2 separate regions of the Homo sapiens genome follow, and region 1 is linked to region 2. The links come from fine-mapping of genetic effects on gene expression. A gene starts in region 2. The other region holds a variant in brackets. All regions are shown on one strand. Distances are between the middles of the regions. Region 1 overlaps ACTN4 (actinin alpha 4). Region 2 holds the start of ACTN4 (actinin alpha 4).

Region 1 (8,000 bases), 50 kb before region 2:
GTGGCACAACGCTGTTCCCCCACTAAAGATACCTCCGCCCCGCCATGTAGCCAACCCTGGGCACCCCTCAAAAGTCAGGCCAAATGCCGTGCCTGGAGGGTACCCGCACCATGGCCTCCCTGACCCGGTTCTGCCTCAGACAGCCTCCTCCCTGCAGACCACATCACGCCCTTGCTCTCTGGTCTCTAACAGTTCTTGTCTCCAACAGTTCTTGTCTCCCTCCCTCCCACGGCTATGAACTCCTTGAGGGGAGGGGAGCCAAGGCAGGTTCTCACTGCGGAGAGTACTAACTCACCTTCCCAGCCTCCCCCATACAATACTGAATTCAGAGAGCCCAGGGCGGGAACCATGCTTACACCACTCATGTGGGCACGTCACCTAACCTTCCTAACTTCCATTTCCTCCTCTGCAACGTGGGGATGAAGACCCCACCTAGGCCACGGGCAGTGTGAGGACTCAAGATGGCCATGCCTGCAGCGTGCATGGCAATGCTCAGGAAGTGGCAGCTCTCTGGATGGCCCTGTGCCTCCCAGCATCTCCTCCCTCCCTGCCCTGGTCTCAGGAGTCCTGCCCACCCCCTCCACAGTGTGCCTGCTCTGTCCCCGGCCCACCCTCAGCACCTCTCCCGTAGCAACCCCCAGTCACTTTTAGTCTTATTGGATGTTGCATGCACATGAGCTTTCTCTCCTACCATGTGCGAGCTCCAGGGGTTGGGAAGTACGGCGCCTGCACCTTTACAGCCCCAGAGCACTGCCAGCCTTGATGGCAGGCAGCAAGCAGGCGTGGAGCCCAGGAGCCCAGCAGCCCTGCAGAGCAAAGGGCAGCAGCAAATGGGCTGGGAAGGAAGTGGCCACGGATGCTAGGCCTCTACTCTCACATGTGCCTGAGAGCAGGCACTGCTGGGCAGCAAAGTAGCCAAGACACATCCCACAGCCTGAGGACAAAAGAGGGCTGTTCCCCGAGGGCAAGGCCCCGTGCTCTGGTGTTGCCAGGCCCAGACCTAGGCACCTGGGCTGCAGGGAGGGCCACGCACGCGTGCAAACAGCACCCCTCACAGCCTTGGCCTGTGTGGGCTGCTCCTGCAGGCTCTGCAGGGGCACAGACCTGGGTTTGGGTTTGAATACCTGCCCCTTGGCTTACTCATTCCATGTTTTCAACCAAGTGACTTTACCTACTTAAGTCTGTTTCCTTCCCTGTAAGATGGATTTATCAGAATCTACCTCCTGCAGTGTGCTCTAAGAATTAAACTAGGGAAAATACATTTAAAGCATGTGACAGGCTCCTTGGCATAAAGTAAGAGCCAGATGAATCACACGCATGTGTGTGCATGTACACACGCACATAAGCACGTGCTGAGATCCAGTCTCTTCTCTGCAAAGGCTCTCAGACCACCCACTGGTATGCAGGGAAAATGGGATGGCAGGAGACCCTCTGCGGATGGCCCCACCCCACCCTGTGGAGGCTGTGAACAAACCTCGCCGCTTGGGTTCTGGCCACCTGTCCTCAGAGGGGCTGCTGCCCTACCCGCCCTCCATACGTACATCCCACCTGTGCTCATCTTCTCTGGGTAGTAAACAAGAGCTCTGGCTTGGGCATCACACAGGTGCGGATTCACATCTTGCTTCTGCCACTGAGGCCTCAGGCAAGCAATAAGCCTCAGTTTCCTCACTGATAAACAGGACAGTAACCGAGAGGTTAAGATAGGGATTAAACACAAGGACACATGTCAATCACTCCGTGCTGTGTTAAATGCATGTCAAAGGAAGGTTTGCTCTGAAAGCAATGGTAACTCTTCCGTGTACTCTGTCTTCCTGACTGACACAGGCAAAGCCCCAAGCACAGGTGCTCAGGGAGGATGCCCACTCGCCTGGCCTGGATGACGCAGAAGGGAACTCCCACCCAGATCCGGACCTGACACAGGCTTGGGGAACCCCACTGATGCACTCCTGTTCTCACCCCATGTCTTGCTTTGCCCTGTTTTGTCCTCCTGGAAGATGAGGGGCATCTATTGACATCAGAGGTTCACAAAGCCCTCAGCTCTGGTGAGGAGAGCCTGCACTCACAAGGCCACCCTTGGGAACAGGTCGACCATGACGGCCACTTCTCCATGCGGAGAGACTGGTGAGTAGGAGCTGGAGTTCGAATGGGACATTAAAAATTCATCGCTTCTTCTACTTGGTTACAAAAATAACACTCTGCTTCCATCCTTCCTCTCCCTACCCGGTTTAGACTACGCTGCGTGGGGTGGATGGTGTGGAGAGGTGGTTTCTATAGATGGGGGCCCTATGCGCCCACCACGCCGCCCTCCACCATGCAAAATTCTCAGAATGTGGGCAGCCGACCTCATGATGCCCCAGGCCACCATGGGTCCGTACATATTCATTCTCTGGACAAGCATATGCTGGGGGTCAGCAGAGGGCCAGGCCCTGTGCTGAATCCATAACAGTGAGCAAAAGCAGACACTCTCATGAGGCTCCAGGTCTGATCTCATTAATCAAGCGATCAGTCCACTCCAGAAATAACGCCCTTAGGAAAAGTGGTAATAATAACAGCAATAACTGCAGCAGACACTTCCATAGAGTCTACTAGGGGCGGGCACTGCTCGAGGCACTTGGTCACTTACTAATTCTGTCACCCTCGTAATCATCTCTGGAGGGAGGTGCTAGTACTGCCTCCATTTTGCAGATGAGGAAACGGAGGGCCTGAGAGGTGAAGTGGCTTGCTCCCATCAGTCACACACCTAGAAAGTTACAGAGCTGGGTTTAAAGCCAGGTGCTGGGCTCCTGGGGCCGAGTTTGTGTCACCTCCCCTGGGATGGGAGCTGAAGAGTGCGGTCAGCATGGTGGCGGGGTGGGGGGGCACCAAGCGACTGGTGAGGCAGACACAGAAAGGTGTCCTTGAAGAAGTCATTCTCAAACTCTGAGCTGAAGGATGAGGAGTTAATAAGATAAAAATGAGGGAGACCTTCCAGATACTGGGAAGAGCATGTGCCAAAGCCCTCCTGCAGAAGGGACAGAGCCCACTCCGAGAAGGAAGGGAGTAAAGAAGTGAGGCTGGCATGCTGGCCTCACAAAGCCATTAAACGGTCATGCTGTCCCTGCCATGCAGGGAAAGAGCCGAAGGGGACAAGGGTCAATGTGTGATGGCCAGGAATAAAGCAGGGTGAAGAGCCCCTGAGAGAAACTTCCTCCCCCTGGCAGGAAGAGGAAGGCAGAGGTGCCCT[G/T]CCGGCACGCCAAAGAAGAAATGCAAACTCAAGGTTTCTATTTCATTTGGGAGGAACCAGAGCTGCCAGCCCTCTGTGGGAGGAGGGAAAGGCAAAAAGCATCGAGCTCTCCTGGGCTTCATGATCGCGGTCATCTTCCAGGGGCAGCAGCGACTCTGACTGTCCAGAACGTGGCAGTGGCCATGCCCTCAGGACCGCAACTAAGAGGCATGCACCTGCCTCACAAATACTGACTTGGAGCCCTATTATGTACTGGACACAGGAGGAAGCAAAACAGTTATCATTTACATTCTGGCCAGCCAGGCATGGTGGCACACACCATGTAATCCCAGCACTTTAGGAGGCCGAGGCGGGAGGATTGCTTTAGCACAGGAGTTTGAGATCAGCCTAGGCAACATGGCAAAACCCCATCTCTACAAAAACTACAAAAATTAGCCAGGCGTGGTACTGAGCGCCTGTAGTCCCAGCTACTCGAGAGGCTGAGGTGGGAAGACAGCTTGTGCCTGAGAGGCAGAGGTTGCAGTAAGCTGAGATTGTGTTAGTGCACTCCAGCCTCGGTGACAGAGCCAGACCCTGTCTCAACCCGCCCCCCCGCAAAATTACATTCAGCACGGGGGTGCGGGGGGCATGACATATTAAAGGTAATTATGCTATAACGGCTAATTGCTAGTTCTTACTATTTACACATTAGCAACTCTTTAAAACCTCCAACCCCATGATCACATGCGATATATCTCCATTTGATGAGGAAACTGAGGCAGGGAGAGGTTCAGTGACTTGCTTAATGTCACACAGACACAGATGATACATACAAACACGGGGTGGGCATTCATTCCACGATGTCTGAGTAGAATGGGAGGTGCTGGCCAGTGAGGGAGAGACAGCAGAGTCAGGTCAAGAAGCCCCCAGCCAGGGCCGGGCGCAGTGGCTCGCACCTGTAATCCCAGCACTTTGGGAGGCCGAGGCGGGCGGATCACTTGAGGTCAGGAGTTCAAGACCAGCCTGGCCAACATGGTGAAACCTCGTCTCTACTAAAAATACAAAAATTACCTGGGCGTGGTGGCGGGCTCCTATAAACCCAGCTACTCGGGAAGCTGAGACAGGAGAATCGCTTGAACCTGGGAGGTAGAGGTTGCAGTGAGCCAAGATCGCGCCACTGCACTCCAGCCTGGGAGACAGAGTAAGACTCGGTTTCAAAAAAAAAAAAAGAAGGCCCCAGCCCACCCTTGGTCCCCAAGCTAGAGGTAAACTCAGAGAACAAGGCAGGCAGGCAGAGCAACGCCCCAGCAGATCACCCGCTTCGCAAAAGGTGGCCCCGCTCCTCCCAGCCTGTCCCTGGCCCTCCTGTGAAGGCAGCCTGCACCCAGCCCTTGACCTATCTAGGGAGGAAGGAAGGATGTGGACTCATCTGTCTTTGAGAACACATGTGAACCAAACCACAGAGAGGAGGCTTCAGAGCTTGCCCCTGCACACGGGCAGCCTATTAAAGAGGCTTCTCTGGTTGCTAAAATAGCACAGGGTGTGAGTGCGGGGAAGGGGGGTGGAAGAACAGAGAAAGGCAAGCTTGTCAGTTGAGTTGGGATCCACTGTCACCCCTCCGTGTGCCAAGGCCCATGGTGACCCAGCTAAGGCGGGCTTCAGGGGGCCCCAAGAGCAGTTTCTGCTTTGTCACTGTGGGCTGCAGGAGGGAGACGGAGACCTAGCATCTCTGGTCATAAAGTCCTTCCTGCGTCACAGGGACCCCTCCCAGCCGCCAGGATGTGGGGCGGTAGGTGAATGAATGATGGATATTGTTCAGGAGGTGACCTAAGCACCCAGGAATGTGGCAGCAGTGGGCTTTAATGAGCCATTCATCAATGATTCCCTCCCTCAACCCGAAGAGGCAAAGCCCTCTCTACTCTGGGGCGCTGATTAAGAAACAAACATTCGGCAGACACAGGGCAACCGAGTGGTTCCAGTGGGCAGAGCGATGGTGAGCTGGAGGGAAGAAAGGGCCTTGGTGGGATGCGGCTGACCCAGCTGAACAAACTCGCCTTCTCTTTTCTTCCTGCCTTCCTGTTACAAAACATGTTCTCAGAACTGAAGGGGGTGGAGGGAAATGGCTGTTGGAAGCTGGAATTCCACTAAGCCCAGAATAAAGGGAGTCTCTTGCAAAGTCGCTTTGGGCCTAGAAATAGGCTCGAGCGATCCCTCAGGAGGGGTGAGCATGCCGGCTCTGCACTGTGTAGCACATGATCCAGACTGGATCGCAGGCTTCACTCTCCCCACCCACCAGGCTGATGCTCACATGTGGATTCCACGGACCCCACGCTTGACAAGATTTTAGAAAAAAACGTTTGCTGCCTCATGCCGCAACCCTCTTCTGCCGTGTACACTGCCCACCCGCCTAGCAGGATATCACCCAGGAGGACCAGCCTGCATGCATTTTGCCCAGGCTCAGGGTTGACTGCAACTGGCCACAGCCAGCCCCAACCCCAGGTACCCGGAGGCCAGACGGAGCTCCCTAGCACCCTGGGAGTTTTCAAACCTTGGCTCTGAAATACCGTGTAGGGTTTGTCGCTCCGCTGGGGCATCAGTTGCTTTGAGGGGGAGGGCGCCGTCCCACCTCCTGAACTTCCACCTTGCCTGCTGTGGCCTCTGACGCTGCCCATGGTTCCTGCTTCCATGGGTCCTAGGGAAGGGTGTCCAGGGCTTGGACACAGGGGAGGTACAGCTATTTATTCCTGGGTAGGCTTATCACCTGGGTAGGCCTTCTTATCACCCATCTGGCAGGCTATTGCCAGACCTCAGGCAAGGCCTAGCCCCACTGGGGCATCTTTTCAGTTCCTGAAAGCAGAAACGGCTCCCCAGCCCATGGGCTTCATCACCAACTATAAAGGCGCTTTCAGGGCCAGACGGCTAAGCCTTCTGGAATCTGGGTTACCAGCGGCACAGGCAGAGATGCTCGCCCTGGCAAGGGGGCCCGTGGAGCCTCTGGCCTGTGAGACTGCACACCTGAGCACTTTTTGAAGATCCACTGCCACCAGATTCTGAAGGAGATAAAAGCCAGGAAGCAGGTTGAAAGAACAGAAAACGAGCAGGTCACAATAACACAGCCACAAATTAGATGGGTGCAGCAACGTGGGACGCAGACAGCCCTACTGCCCAGGCAATCAGGGCTAGCACTGCGGCAGTTCAGCGACACACGGGGCAGCCTGTCCAGGACCCAACCCCAGCCAGGGGCAAAGCAAGTGCACTGTGTGTGCCTGTTACATGACGACATAACCTAATTTGAAAGCAATTACAGTGAAATATGGAATGCGTCTTATGTCCTGGCCTGAAGTTGCCTTATTCGGAGTTTTCTCAGCCTGCATGAAAAAGCTCTGACTTCGCAGTTGGAGAAGAGGTATAAATACTGCTGAGTGGGGTAGCGAGCATTCCAAAGGTCCTGCGTGTCCACCCAGAAACCAGCTCTTTGCACCCGGCCCCCTCCCTGCAGCCAGTGTTCCAGTCTTGGACAATCCCCTTTGAGGTGCCAGAAAGCGTGCGTGTTGCTGCTGCAAAGGACGGATTTTGTTTGTTTGTTTGTTTTGAGACAGAGTCTCGCTGTGTCGCCAGGTTGGAGTGCGGTGGCATGATCTCGGCTCACTGCAGCCTCCACCTCCCGGGTTCAAGTGATTCTCCTGCCTCAGCCTCCCGAGTAGCTGGCATTACAGGCACCCACCATCACACCCGGCTAATTTTTATATTTTCAGTAGAGACGGGTTTCTGCCATGTTGGCCAGGCTGGTCTCGAACTCCTGATCTCAGGTAATCCACCCGCCTCAGCCTCCCAAAGTGCTGGGATTACAGGCGTGAGCCACCGCGCCAGGCCAAAGGATGGATTTTGGAGTGCTGTCTCCTCCTCATGAGAAATACTGGTCTAAGACTTTCGTCTAGCTCTTTATAGAGCTGGTTTTGTCTCATCACTCAGGACTTGCCTCAAATGTCAGCAACCCAGGAGGCCTTCCTGGACTCTGTCATCTCCCCTAGGCTATCACTCCACTCTGCGTTGTTGGGTTTTTTTTTTTGTTTTTTTTGTTTTTTTTTTTTTGAGACGGAGTTTCACTTTTGTTGCCCAGGCTGGAGTGCAATGGCATGATCTCAGCTCAACGCAACTTCTGCCTCCTGAGTTCAAGCTATTCTCTGGCCTCAGCCTCCCGAGTAGCTGGGATTACAGGCCTGGCTAATTTTTTATTTTTAGTAGAGACGGAGTTTCTCCATGTTGGTCAGGCTAGTCTCGAACTCCCAACCTCAGGTGATCCGCCCACCTCGGCCTCCCAAAGTGCTGGAATTACAGGCGTGAGCCAACACACCCGGCCTCACACTGCATTGTTTTACTCACTGCACTTTTCATCATCAAAAACTATGTTCTTTGTTCATAACCAGTCTCCCTCCCAAGTGCAGCATAAGCTCCCCAGAGGAGGGTTCTGTTTGCTGTGGGAACCCACTGCCTGGACTGGTACCTTTCACATAGCAGGTACTCAACAAATCTAGGAGTGAGTGGAATCAGGTTGCGGCATCTCGCATCCAGCTTTTCTTTCTCTCCCTCTCTTTCATGTACTCTTTAAATATGTACATAATTTGGAGAATCAATTTTTAAAAATTGAAATGTAATTCACATAACATACCAAAAAATTCACCCTTTTACATAAAATTCAGGGAGTTTTAGTATATTCACAAGATCGTGCAACAATCACCACTAATTCCAGAACAAGGCTAGGCAAGGTGGCTCACGCCTGTAATCCCAGCACTTTGGG
Region 2 (13,928 bases):
GATGTTTCAATGAACACGAAAACTTAGCAAGTGAGTCATTTCTTCTTGCTGTAATGAGATTTGGCATAACCTTCAAGAGATCTCACCCTTCCAGGACAACAGAGGGTGATGAGGTTACCCAGGCCACTTTTAGAAATTGGGAGAGGGAACTGTGGCCCAGAACTGTAATTGCTCAAGAATTTGCTCAAAGACCAGAACAATGCTTCTCCATCCCGCCAGGAGAACACTCATGGCCCTCTCATGTAAAAACCGTTGCATAACCTACTTACGGGTTACAGGGGTCCCTAGAAGTCAGAGCAAAGGGCTTCCAAGCAGAAGTGAGACACACGTCCCCTCTGATTTGGGCCAACTCTTGCTTAATTCCTAGAAGAATTCAATTCTACCCACTTTGAGGGCCTACAGCTGTTCTGGATGCATATTTTTTTGGAGTATGCATGTACAGAACCCCCAGGACTGTCATTCTTCCCGTGCCCAGTGGCTCAGCCTTGGAGAGGCAAGAAGGGCAATCTGTCATTCACTAAAGCAACACTGCAATGTAGAAAAAACCCAGCCAGTCTGGGTGCAGTGGCTCACTCCTGTAATCCCAGCACTTTGGGAGACCGAGGCGGGCGGATCTCCTGGGGTCGGGAGTTTGAGACCAGCCCGACCAACATGGAGAAACCCCGTCTCTACTAAAAATACAAAAAGCCAGGCGTGGTGGCGCATGCCCGTATTCCCAGCTACTCGGGAGGCTGAGGCAGGAGAATCGCTTGAACCCGGGAGACGGAGGTTGCGGTGAGCCAAGATCACGCCCGGGCAACAAGAGCAAAACTCCGTCTCCAAAAACAAACAAACAAACAAACAAACAACCCAGCCAGCCTGGGAGTGCAGGGATGTTTCTTAGTAGGAAGGTAGAGAGCCACACAGATTGGTGTATTCCTTTCCATTACTCCTTCCCCCATTTCAAAAAGAATCCCTACCCCATAACAGGAAAGGGCACAGAGGTGAAGCAGTAGTTTCCCCCACAGAGCAGCTAAGGGTAAATATTTGCTGGAGGAGGTGTAAAGCAGGAGGTACTAGAATCTGGCTCTGGCTGAGACACGAAAGCAGATGGTATTAGCGGACTCTGTGAGCCACCCTTTTCCCTCAAACCTGCCCGGCCCCAGAGGAAGGGAGCTGGGAGGTAAGAGAATGACACATGGCAGCAAGGCCTGGAGGTTCTGGGGAGTCCTGGTTTCCACCCAGGGCCTGAATGGTGCCCCAGCCTCACCCTGTAGGCAAGGGACACTATAACCACGAACAAAGCCCACACCCTAACTCTCGGGAGGGAGTGAAACCCGGCTCGCAAAAGGAGTCACTTGAGGAGTGGCAGAAGACAGGAAGGGAGAGAAAAGGAAGGTCCCCCCACCCTTATCACCTGAGAAAAAAGGGGGAGGGGTTTATTTTCTCCAGCACCTTCAGCTGCAGAAGACAAAGCCTAGACATTCTCAAAACCACCACTGTGGCCCCTGCTCCCTCCCAACTTTCCAGGTCTCTTGGCAACCTTTTCCAACCTGGCACTGCCTCAGGCAATAAATTATTGTTGAGACTCCAGAACAGATCTCACCTTCCCCTCAAAAAGTGAATTTATGCCAACTATCGCAACCTGTCCATCCTGCAGTAGGTGGGGCCACGGATAAGGACACCCCTCCCACCAAGCCACTGCCATGCCCCTCAGTTACTACGGATGAGGAAATTCAAGCAACGCTGGTAATGGACCCAAGGTTATGCCCGGCCCCACCTCAGGCTGCCTTGGAACAGCTGCTCCTTCCACCCTTCCCACCCTTTCCCCTCCAGCCTGGGCTAGGCTGCCTGTGCCAAGCTCCTGGCCACCAACTCGCGCCCTCGAGAGGCTTCCAGTCACTCCCCACTCTGCCAGGTCACCACTCAAAGCCCTGTAGCCTGTTCCTGAAAAATCTCCACCAAACTCACTCTCCCAAACCTTCAGAGCCCTGTCCAAAGTCCCAACTCTACACACATCCCTCTTTATTAACAGAATCACCGCAGGGAACCCTCGGATCCCTTTGCATTTTGCAGATAACAAAACTGCCCGGAGAGTTCAAGGGTCTTGTCCAAGGCCACAGAGCGAATCAGTAACAAATCTGGAAAGAAAATCCAGATCTCCAGATCCCACGAAATGCTTCCAACTTCAAGTACCTCCCACCCATTTCACGCACAAAACTTCTGAACAACCCCTTCCCCCCACACACACCCACTCACCACGCTCCTTTCTTTAGCTCTTCCTGCACACACTCAGAGCTCCCCCCTCAACCACACTGGATTTATCCCCCCCCCACAGACACTGACACCTCGCTCGGGGATCCCACTCCACTTCTGATCACCTTTTCACTGCTGTGGGGCCCTACCAAGTTGCCCCCCCCGCCCCCCAAAAAAACAGTGCCACCTGAACACAGTCTCTGCTTCAGGATCCCTTCACCTACCTCCGGTCTCTCCAAAAAAGACACAATTCTTCCTGGACACTCTCAACGCTTCCTCCCCAAACTCATTCTGCCTGCACGACACACACACGCTCTCCAGTCCCGGGACTGCACCTCCAGGAGCCAGCACCCCCTCCTCAAATTCCTTTCTCAGTCTATCCATTACGCATTCCCTTTCTAATGAGACTTTCATTTTCCTAAACGAACCTCTCTCCCATTATCCACCATTCCAGCTCACCCTCCCTCCCACCGATCTCACCTTCTCCCTCTACACTTCCTCATTCTCTCCAACGCTTTAGCTTTTCAGCTTCCCATCAATTCTTTAGAAATCCCTCCCCAAATTATCCCCACTCTCCGTATCCCCTCTACTTCGGCTTCTCCATCCCTCATCAATTCCTCTTATTATTCCTCCTATCTCTTAATCTTCTCCCCTTTGGAACAGGGCACCACAAATAAATCTCACCCCCTTCAAAAACGTCTGATTCACGGGCCCCTTAACTTCTTCCTTCCGCACCCCACCCTCCTCAGACCCCCAGTCCTGGCACCTCTACCCTCCTCACACCCTAAGCCCATGTCTTTTCATGCTCAATTCTACCCTTAGCCCCTGTTTTCATCTTCCCAGCCTCCCTAGTCTTCCCACCCGTCTTCAGACCCCACAATCTCCACTCCATCCTCACACTTGATTCTTCATCCCCTTTATAACTCCCCCAACCTGAGGCTCCCCCAATTCCAATCTCCTTCAGATCTTTCTGCTCTCCAAATAACCAACCCCTCCACACTCAAGCTCCTCCTCACACTTCCCAGACCCAGAAATTCCCTTCTCAGCCTCCCCTGATTCTCCTCCCAGCACCCCCAACCCATGCTCCGACCCTTCAAGCCCGCCTCGGATCCCAGTTCCATTTCAGCCTGCCCAGTCATCTCCTCGGTTTCCCCTAATGGCACGCCCAGACCCTCCAAATCCTTCATCAGCCTTCCCGATTCCTTTTATTTGACTCCCATATTCCCCACCCAGCCGCCAATTCTCTTTTCAGATTCCCAATTCCTTCCTCTAGCTCGGCGATTCCTCCTCAGGACTCCAATTCCCTTCCCGGACCCGCCAATTCCTTCTCGGGACCCCCCCGTTCCCATCACAGACGCTCCAGTTACCTTTCAGGACCTCCCACCCCTCCCCGGGCCCCCTCAGAAAAGCCCCTCCAGCCCGTCCGGCCCGCGGGCCGCGCACCTTGCGCTGCTGCTTCTCCCAGGCCGGGTCCAGCAGCAGGTCCCGGTCCCAGTCGTCCTCCTGGGCCATGTAGTCGCCCATGCTGCCCCCGCCGCCAGCGCCATTGCCCGCGCTGCTGGGGCCGTACTGGTACGACTGGTTCGCCGCGTGGTAGTCCACCATTCCGCCGCCTCTCGCTCGCCCACCAGCCTGTCCGCTCCCGCCTCAGCTCCCGCCCCTCTGCCCGAGCCGCCGCCGCTACCGCCGCTTCAGCTGCTTCAGCCCGCCCTCCGCCCGCGCCTGCGCACTGCCCGCCGCGCCTGCGCACAGCGCCGAGGTTGCCGCCCTCCCGCGCGCGCGCGCCTGCCAAACCAGAAAAGGCACCAAGGCCGCGCTCCGGAGCTTGGCGCCTGCGCAGAGTCCCGCTTCCTGGCCGCCCGACTCAGCCCGGGGGCGAGCCGCGCCCCCTCTCCGGCGTGAACGCGCGCGTCGTTCGCGTATGGGCGGGGCCAGATCATGAATGATTCATAAGGGCAGGCCCCGCCATCGGACCTGAACCAGCTCAGGCTTGGAATGCACTGCACCGGGTTCCCATTCAGCGACACAAATTCAACAAATATTTATTGAACACCTATTCTGTGCCAGACTATGTTTTACGCAGGCACTAAAAACAGAAAAAAATCCCAACTTTCATGAAACTACCTTCTAGTAAAGGAAGCCACATACACACAAATCTACTTTTATTTTTATTATTTTTTGAGACGGAGTCTCGCTCTGTCTCCCAGGCTGGAGTGCAGTGGCGCGATCTCGGCTCACTGCAACCTCCGCCTCCCGGATTCAAGCAATTCTCCTGCCTCAGCCTCCCGAGTAGCTGGGAACACAGGCATGCTCCACCACACCCGGCTAATTTTTGTATTTTTTTAGTAGAGACGGGGTTTCACCATGTTGGCCAGGCTGGTCTTGAACTCTTGAGCTCAAGCGATCCTCCCGCCTCAGCCTCCCAAAGTGCTGGAATTACAGGCGTGAGCCACCGCGCCCAACCAACACACAAATTTTTTTTTTTGAGACGGAGTTTCGCTCTTGTTGCCCAGGCTGGAGTGCAATGGCGTGATCTGGGCTCACTGCAACCTCCGCCTCCCAGGTTCAAGCTATTCTCCTGCCTCAGCCTCCCGAGTAGCTGGGATCACAGGCATGTGCCACCACTCCTGGCTAATTTTGTATTTTTAGTAGAGACGGGGTTTCTCCATGTTGGTCAGGCTGGTCTCAAACTCCCGACCTCAGGTGATCCGCCCACCTCGGCCTCCCAAAGTGCTGGGCTTACAGGCATGAGCCACTGCGCCTGGCCTCAACACTCAAAATTTTAAAAAATATGTAGACAGGCACAGGGGCTCACACCTGTAATCCCAGCACTTTGGGAAGCTGAGGCGGGAGGATGGCTTGAGCCCAAGAGTTCAAGGCCAGCCTAGGCAACATAACAAGAACCTGTCTCTACAAGAAATGTAAAAATTCACTGGGCATGGCTGTGTGCACCTGTAGTCCCAGCTACTCAGGAGGCTGAGGAAGGGACATCACTTGAGCCCAGGAGTTCCAGTCTGCAGTGAGCTGTGATCACACCAATGCACTCCAGAAGCGAAATCCTGTCTCAAAAATATACATAAAAGTAAAAAATAGGTAGTATTGTATATTCCAAGGTGTTGAGTATTTGGAGAAAAATCAAGCATGGGCTGGAATGCAAATAAACTACTCAGGTAGGCTTCATGGAGAAGGCAGACATTTAAACAAAGGTGCGAGCCACTGCATCAGGAAGCATCTTAAATTTAAATATTCAGCCAGGCACTGGTGGCTTACTCTTGCAATCCCAGCACTCTGGGGAGTCAAGGCTGGAAGAGTGCTTGAGCCCAAGAGTTTGAGGCCAGACTGGGTAACATAACAAGATCTCATCTCTACAAAAAAATGTTTACATTAAAAATAAATGGCCGGGCGCAGTGGCTCATGCCTGTAATCCCAGCACTTTGGGAGGCCGAGGCAGGCAGATCACGAGGTCAGGAGTTAGAGGCCAGCCTGGCCAACATGGTGAAACCCCGTCTCTACTAAAAATACAAAAATTAGCCGGGCTTGGTGGCATGCACCTGTAATCCCAGCTACCCAGGGGGCTGAGGTAGGGGAATCACTGGAACTCGGGAGGCAGAGGCTGCAGTAAGCCGAGATCGCGCCACTGTACTCCAGCCTGGGCGACAGAGCAAGACTCCGTCTAAAATAAAAATAAAAATAAATAAATAAATATCCGGCCAGGTGTGGTGGCTCACGCCTGTAATCCCAGCACTTTGGGGGGCCGAAGTGGGCGGATCACCCCAGGTCAGGAGTTCAAGACCAGCCGGGCCAACGACTCCGTCTCTACTAAAAATACAAAATTAGCCAGGCATAGTGGCACATGCCTGTAATCCCAGCTACTCAGGAGGCTGAGGTAGGAGAATAGCTTGAACCTGGGAGACGGAGGTTGTGGTGAGCCAAGATTGCACCATTGTACTCCAGCTTGGGCAACAAGAGCGAAACTCCATCTCAAATAATAATAATAATAAATATCCAAAATAGAGTTCCTGATCTTCCCCCCAAGCTTGGTCATCCCATCCCACAGTCATCCCTCTTCAATTCGTGCACCTCCAGCCTTGCAGTTGCTGAGGCTACAGACCTTGCGGTCATCCTTAATGCCTCTTTGTCTTCACAACCCCATCCAGTTCTTCAGGAAATTCTGTCATTCCATCTTGAAAGAATACACAGAACCCACCCACTTCCCCCTGCCCCACTGCGCCACCCAGGTTCTGTCTACCCTCGCCTCGCCTTCCCTTGGGCCATTGCAGCAGTTCCCCACTGTCTCCCAGCTCCCCCTCCCACCCCCTTCTCTTTCCCAGGAGAAGCTGGAGGGAGCCTGTGAATGAATGACTGAGTCAGATCACATTCCTCCCTCCTCTGTTCAAACCTTCCTGTGGCTCCACGCTCAGGGTAACAGTCAAAGTCAAGGAAAGGAAGAAAGGCTGCAGAGGAGTCTGCCCTGCCCTGCCTTGCCCAGCCCAGCCCAGCCCAGCCCAGTGTTTTTTTCCTTTTTTTTTTTTTATTGGAGGTGGAGTCTCGCCCTGTCACCCAGACCAGAGTGTAGTGGCATGATCTCGGCTCACTGCAACCTCCGCATCCCGAGTTCAAGCGATTCTCCTGTCTCAGCCTCCAGAGTAGCTGGGATTACAGGCATATGCCACCATGCCCGGCTAATTTTTATATTTTTAGTAAAGAGGGGTTTTGCCATGTTGGCCAGGCTGGTCTTGAACTCCTGAGCTCAGGTGATCTGCCTGCCTCAGCCTCCCAAAGTGCAGGGATTACGGGCATGAGCCACTCTACCCGGCCAGCCCAGTGTTTTAGTTTTTTGTTTTTGGAGACAGGGTTCTCAATATTTTGCCCAAGTTGAGCTCAGACTCTTGATTCTCCTACCTCAGCCTTCTGAGTAGCTGCGACTGTGAACACGTACCACCACATCCAGCTCAGCCAAGTTTTGTTGATATTGTTCTTGGTGCTGGTGGTGGTGATGGTGTTTGACACAGCAACTCGCTATGTCACCAGGCTGAAGTACAGTGACACCGTTCCAGTTCACTGCAGCCTCAAATTCCTGGGCCCAAATGATCCTCCTGCTTTAGCCTCCCAAGTAGCTGGGACTGCAGGTGCACCCCACCACGCCTGGCTAATTTCTATTTTTTTTTGAGACGGAGTCTCACTCTGTCGCCCAGGCTGGAGTGCAGTGGCACGGTCTTGGCTCACTGCAAGCTCCGCCTCCCTGGTTCACGCCATTCTCATGCCTCAGCCTCCCAAGTAGCTGGGACTACAGGCACCTGCCACCATGCCCAGCTAATTTTTTGTATATTTAGTAGAGACGGGGTTTCACCGTATTAGCCAGGATGGTCTTGATCTCCTGACTTTGTGATCCGCCCACCTCGGCCTCCTAAAGTGCTGGGATTACAGGCGTGAGCCACTGTGCCCGGCAATTGCTAAATTTTTTGTAGAGACAAGTGGTGGGGGTGAGGGGAGTGTGTGGGGGTGGTCTCGCTAGGTTGCTTAGGCTGGCCTGGAACTCCTGGCCTCAAGTGATCCTCCTACCTCAGGGAATGCTGGGATTACAGGCTGGGATTATGTGTGAGCCACCCAAGCCCTGCCTCAACCTAGTTTATGAAACAGTTTAGAGTCAGCTAGCATGGTGGCTCACACCTGTAATCCCAGCACTTTGGGAGGCTGAGGCGGGCAGATCACTTGACACCAGGAGTTTGAGAACAGCCTGGACGACATAATGAAATCCCGTCTTTACTAAAAATACAAAAATTAGCCGGGTGTGGAGGTGCACGCCTATAATCCCAACTACTCGGGTGGCTGAGGCAGGAGAATTGCTTGAACCTGGGAGGTGGAGGTTACAATGAGCTGAGATCACGGCACTGCACTCCAGCCTGGGTGACAGAGCAAGACTGTCTCAAAAAAAAAAAAAGCCTTCGAGTACCCCCCACCTTGCTGTCCCTCAAGCACACCAGGTGCCAAACTCAGCCTCTGATGAGGCCTTTGTACTTGTGAGGTGGAGTCACGACTCCCAGGAACACTTTCCCCAGACACTGAGTCCCTAGGGCTCACAGCCCCATTTCCTATAGGTCTCTGTGGAAATACCACATCCTCAGTGAGACTTTCCCGGATCACCTGATTTAAAATATCATCCCATCGGGCATGGGATGTTCAAGGCCAGCCTGGCAAACATGGTGAAACCCTGTCTCTACAAAAAATACAAAAGATTAGCCAAGTGTGGTGTTGCATGCCAGTGGTCCCAGCTACCTGGAGGGCTGAGGCAGGAGGATCACTTGAGCCCAGGAGGTCGAGGTTGCAGTGAGCTGAGATCGCACCACTGCACTTCAGCCTGGGTGACAAAGTGAGAACCTGTCTCAAAAATATAAATAAAATAAAATATTGCCAGGTGCGGTGGCTCACGCCTGTAATCTCAGCACTTCCGGAGGCCGAGGCAGGCGGATCACAAGGTCAGGAGATCGAGACCATCCTGGCTAACATGGTAAAACCCCGTTTCTACTAAAAATACAAAAAATTAGCTGGGTGTGGTGTCACGCGCCTGTAGTCCCAGCTACTCAGGAGGCTGAGGCAGGAGAATCACTTGAACCCAGGGGGCAGAAGTTGCGGTGAGCTGAGATCGCACCACTGCACTCCAGCCTGGGCAACAGAGGGAGACTCTGTCTCAAAAAAAAAAAAAAAAAAAAAAAAAACCAACCACCATGGTTTATGGTTTCTCCAGCTATGGGAGTTGCAAGGATCCTTCTCTGCTTCTCTGCCTCTGCCAAAGGAACGCGAAGGGATGGATCCAGTGACAGCAGAGGAAGGGGACGAGGCCCAGGCAGCAGCCCGATGTCCTAGGAGATGCCAGGACCTGGCCAAAGACCCCCAGGCGTGTTGGCTGTTTCCAGAGCTGGGCTGGAGTGGGGCAGGGCAGGGCGGTCTCCTCCAGCCTGACTTGAAGAACTAGCTCAGGACTCTTATGCATGGTCTGGCCTGGGGGAAAAACTCCTCAGGGGATGGGCCATCTGCCCCTCGCTGCAGCTCCTGGTGGACTCTGAGAAACCGTCCAGACCAAGTGCTCCCAGATGGAGGCGACAGCCCCAGCCATTGAAGTTTAAATTAAAGCCTCCCTTTAATTGTCAGCCTTGAGGCTACTTCCTGGCAGCCATCTATGGGCAGTGTAGTAATAATAGCTGATGTGTCTATTGATGTCCAAGGGACCAGGAGGGGCTCTGAGAGAAGGGGTATGGCCAGTGGGCCCTACAGGCGTTTTTAGGTTTACCATTGAACCCGTGAGACCTCAGTCAGAATTTATTAAATGCTGTATCCCATTGTTAACACTACTTCAGGGAAGGCAACTAGAGAGGGTGTGTCCTCACAGGGCGGGGACATGAACAAATACTGCAATGTCTAGAGATGTCTCAGGAAGCAGCTGGAGCAGCAGCCCTGAACCCCAAGTGAGCATGACAAGCACCCACCAGGATGGAATTTGGAGACAGAACCAATTTGAGTTTCTTTTATTTTTATTTATTTATTTATTTATTTTGAGATGGAGTCTCGCTCTGTCACCCAGGCTGGAGTGCAGTGGCACAATCTTGGCTCACTGCAACCTCCACCTCCCGGGTTCAAGCAATTCTCCCACCTCAAGTGTCCTGAGTAGCTGGGATTACAGGCACGCGCCACCAGGCCTGGCTATTTTTTTTTTTTTTAAGACAGAGTTTCGCTCTTGTTGCCCAGGCTGGAGTGCAATGGCGCGATCTCGGCTCACCCCAACCTCCACCTCCCAGGCTCAAGTGATTCTCCTGCCTCAGCCTCCCGAGTAGCTGGGATTACAGGCGTGCGCCACCACGCCTGGTTAATTTTGTATTTTTAGTAGAGACGGGGTTTCTCCATGTTGGTTAGGCTGATCTTGAACTCCTGACCTCAGTTGATCCATCCGCCTCGGCCTCCCAAAGTGCTGGGATTACGGGCATGAGCCACTGCGCCCCGGCTATTTTTTAATTTATTATTTATTTATTTATTATTAGTTTTTGAGACGGAGTCTCACTCTGTTGCCCAGGCTGGAGTGCAATGGCATGATCTTGGCTCACTGCAACCTCTGCCTCCCGGGTTCAAGCGATTCTCTTGTCTCAGCCTCCCGAATAGCTGAGACTACAGGCATGCGCCACCACACACAGCTAATTTTTGTGTTTTTTAGTAGAGATGGGGTTTCACTATATTGGACAGGCTGGTCTTGAACTCCTGACCTCATGATCCGCCCACTTCAGCCTCCCAAAGTGCTGGGATTATAGGAGTGAGACACCACGCCCAGCTTATTTTTTTGAGACAAGGTCTCACTCTGTCGTCCAGGCTGAAGTGCAATGGCGTGATCTCAGCTCACTGCAACCTCCACCTCCCTGGTTCAAGCTATTCTCCTGCCTCAGCCTCCTGAGTAGCTGGGATTACAGGCACCCGCCACCAAGCCCAGCTAATTTTTGTATTTTTAGTAGAGGTGGGGTTTCACCACGTTGGCCAGGCTGGTCTCGAACTCCTGGCCTCAGATGATCCACGCGCCTTGGCCTCCAAAGTGCTGAGATTACAGGCGTGAGCCACTGCACCCACCAAGCTGTTCTAAACTCTTTGCAGGCATTAACTACTGACGTGGGTACAATTACTACTTTCCCCAGCTGTAAAACAGGTACAGAGAAGACAACTCACATACCCTGAGGCGGCTGGGCTGGGGAGTGAACTCAGGCAGTTTTTCTCCAGAGCCACCTCCTAGCTGTTCGGAGTATGAATGACCCTCTGATAGTGAAAGCAGCCCAGTGAGGCAGGATGAGATGTGGCTCCCAGAGGAGGGGAAAAAGGTCATTTCCTCTTCCCTTGCAGAGCAGCCATGGCCAATTGTGCAGGTTGTATCCTGCATAAGGGCACCTGCCAAGTGGGTAACTGGGAGTTGTCCCCACCCAGAAGGGGTGCCTTTTGCTAATGTGCCCAAGTTCATGGGTGGTAGAGGCATCCCAGTCCTTTTTATTATTATTTTTTTGAGGCAGTTTCGCTCTTGTTGCCCAGGCTGGAGTGCAATGGCGCGATCTCGGGTCACTGCAACTTCTGCCTCCCGGGTTCAAGCGATTCTCCTGCCTCACCCTCCCAAGTAGCTGGGAATACAGGCGCCCGCCACCACGCCCGGCTAATTTTGTATTTTTAGTAGAGACGGGGTTTCACCATGTTGGTCAGGCTGTTCTCAAACTCCTGACCTCAGGTGATCTGCCTACCTCGGCCTCCCAAAGTGCTGGGATTACAGGCATGAGCCACTGTGCCAGGCCTCCCAGTCCTTTTTATCCCAGTGAGCTGCAGAGGCACACTTTTGTTCAGTCCCCAGGATTTAGGCACTCCCTGGCTACTGGGGCCCTGCTGAGGTCTGGGCCCCAGGGCAAGGGGTGTCTGCTCCCACAGGCAGGGCCCTCTGAGGAATGCTGGCTGTGAGTGCACACAGGGAGGTCAGGCCGGCTGGCAGCTTGGGTACCACAGCTGCCCTCTCCAAGGCAACGCTTATGCACACCAGCATCCATCAATAAATCACCAAGGGGCAGCTGCCAGTCTACTCTAAGTAATGAACATCTATTAGGGCATTTCTTTTCCTTTTTTGGAGACAGGGTCTTGCTGTCACCTGGGCTGGTGTGCAGTGGTGCAATCATAGCTCATTGCAGCCTCAAACTCCTGGGTAGCCAGGACTACAGGCACATACCACTGTGCCTGGCTAATTTTTACTTACTTACTTTTTTTTTTTAATTTATTTTTTTGAGACGGAGTCTAGCTCTGTCGCCCAGGCTGGAGTGCAGTGGTGCGATCTCAGCTCACTGCAAGCTCCGCCTCCCGGGTTCATGCCATTCTCCTGCCTCAGCCTCCAGAGTAGCTGGGACTACAGGCGCCTGCCTAATTTTTTTGTAGTTTTAGTAGAGACGGGGTTTCACCGTGTTAGCTAGGATGGTCTCGATCTCCTGACCTCGTGATCTGCCCACTTCGGCCTCCCAAAGTGCTGGGATTACAGGCGTGAGCCACCGCGCCTGGCCAACTTACTTATTTTTGAGACAGGGTCTCACTCTGTTACCCAGGCTGGAGTGCAGTGACGCCATCTTGGCTCACTGCAACCTCTGCCTCCCAGGCTCAAGTGATCCTCCCACCTTAGCCTCCAGAGTAGCTGGGATTACATGTGTGTACCACCATGCCTGGCTATTTTCTTTTGTAGTTTTTTGTAGAGACAGGGTTTCACCATGTTGCCCAGACTCGCCTCGAACTCCTGAGGTCAAGCAATCCATCTGCCTTGGCTTCCCAGTGTTGGGATTACAGGCGTGAGCCACTGTGCCTGGCCAGGCCCAGTTAATTTTAAAACTTTTATAGGAACAGGGTCTCGCTTTGTTGACCTGGTCTCGAACTCCTGGCTTTCAGCAATCCTCCTGCTGCAGCCTCCCACTGTTGGAATTACATGCATGGACCGCCATGCCCAACCTGAGCTAATTTTTACTTTTGCGTAGAGGGATTCCAGTCATCCTCCTCCCTTAGCCTCCCAAAGTGCTGGGATTACAGGCATAAACCAGCCTCTACTGGGTCTTTTTAATTCCTGCATTCCCCCAACCCCCTAGCCCTCCAGGCAATATGCTCACAGGGGAAAAGCACTGCCTAAGGGCCACTGGGAGTGCCCCAAATTCCTCAGGTAAGAAGGGAATGAACATGTAAGGTGAGTCAGGTCTCCTGTCAGGTAACACTAACCAGGGGAGCGGCATGCGACTTGGAAAGAATGGTGTGGCTGAAGGAGCTGTCTACCTATGACACCTTGAGAGGAAAAAATATATATATACTAATTTTCTCATGAAGTCTCTCCATACAGAATAGTACTGAGGACTAGCTTGCAACCTTGGTGACAAACACTTCTGAGCCTGAAATTAACAATGGCTTATATTTTCTTTTTTGAGACAGGGTCTGTCACCCAAGCTGGAGTGCAGTGGTGTGATCACAGCTCACTGCAGCCTTGACCTCCTGGGCTCAGGTGATTTGCCGACCTCAGCCTCCTAAATAGCTGGGACTACAGACACGCGCCACCATGCCTAGCTATTTAAAATAAACTTTTTGGTCAGGCGCGGTGGCTCACGTGTGTATTCCTAGCACTTTGGGAGGTCGAAGCAGGGAGACTGCCTGAGCCCAAGAGTTCGAGACCAGCCTGGGCAACACGATGAAACCCCATCTCTACTAAAATACAAAAAAATTAGCCGGGCGTGGAGGTGTGTGCCTGTAGTCCCAGTTACTTGGGAGGCTGAGGCAGAAGAATTGCTTCAACCTGGGAGGCAAAGGTTGCAGTGAGCTGAGATCGCGCCACTGCACTCCAGCCTGGGCGACAGAGTGAGACTCTGTCTCTAAAAAAAAAAAAAAGAAAAAGAAAAAGAAAAAAAAAAAATATATATATATATATATATATATATATTGAGACGGAGTCCCACTCTGTCGCCCAGGCTGGTCTCAAACTCTGGCCAAGCAATCCTCCTGCTTTGGCCTCCTAAAGTGTTGGGATTACAGGCGTGAACCACTGCACCCGGCCTGTGGCTCACATTTTCTAAGAGCAAGGACAGGACAGGACAGGCCCCAATCTCAGGCCTTTACTGGCAAGGGCCGGAGAAACCCTCACAGGTTTCAGAAGGGTGCATTATTCTTCC

Evidence for each region.
Region 1: its variant is fine-mapped to the expression of ACTN4 in whole blood (TOPMed, PIP 0.98).

What each region holds. Positions count from the first base shown.
Region 1 is chr19:38,690,696-38,698,695 of GRCh38, reverse strand. All of the region lies in intron 1 of ACTN4 (actinin alpha 4), which reads right to left. Among named protein-coding and RNA genes, the nearest start is that of ACTN4, 47 kb to the right of the region's middle. RefSeq lists enhancers at 4,357-4,416, 4,386-4,977. The variant G/T (reference allele first, on the strand shown) is at 3,224.
Region 2 is chr19:38,637,658-38,651,585 of GRCh38, reverse strand. It overlaps ACTN4 (actinin alpha 4), which reads right to left and starts at 3,937. Exons shown (of 21, transcript NM_004924.6): 1 at 3,679-3,937. The coding sequence starts at 3,840. RefSeq lists enhancers at 1,255-1,334, 1,963-2,257, 10,983-11,921, 13,802-13,928 and silencers at 1,963-2,257, 2,216-2,414, 3,598-3,677, 3,908-4,097.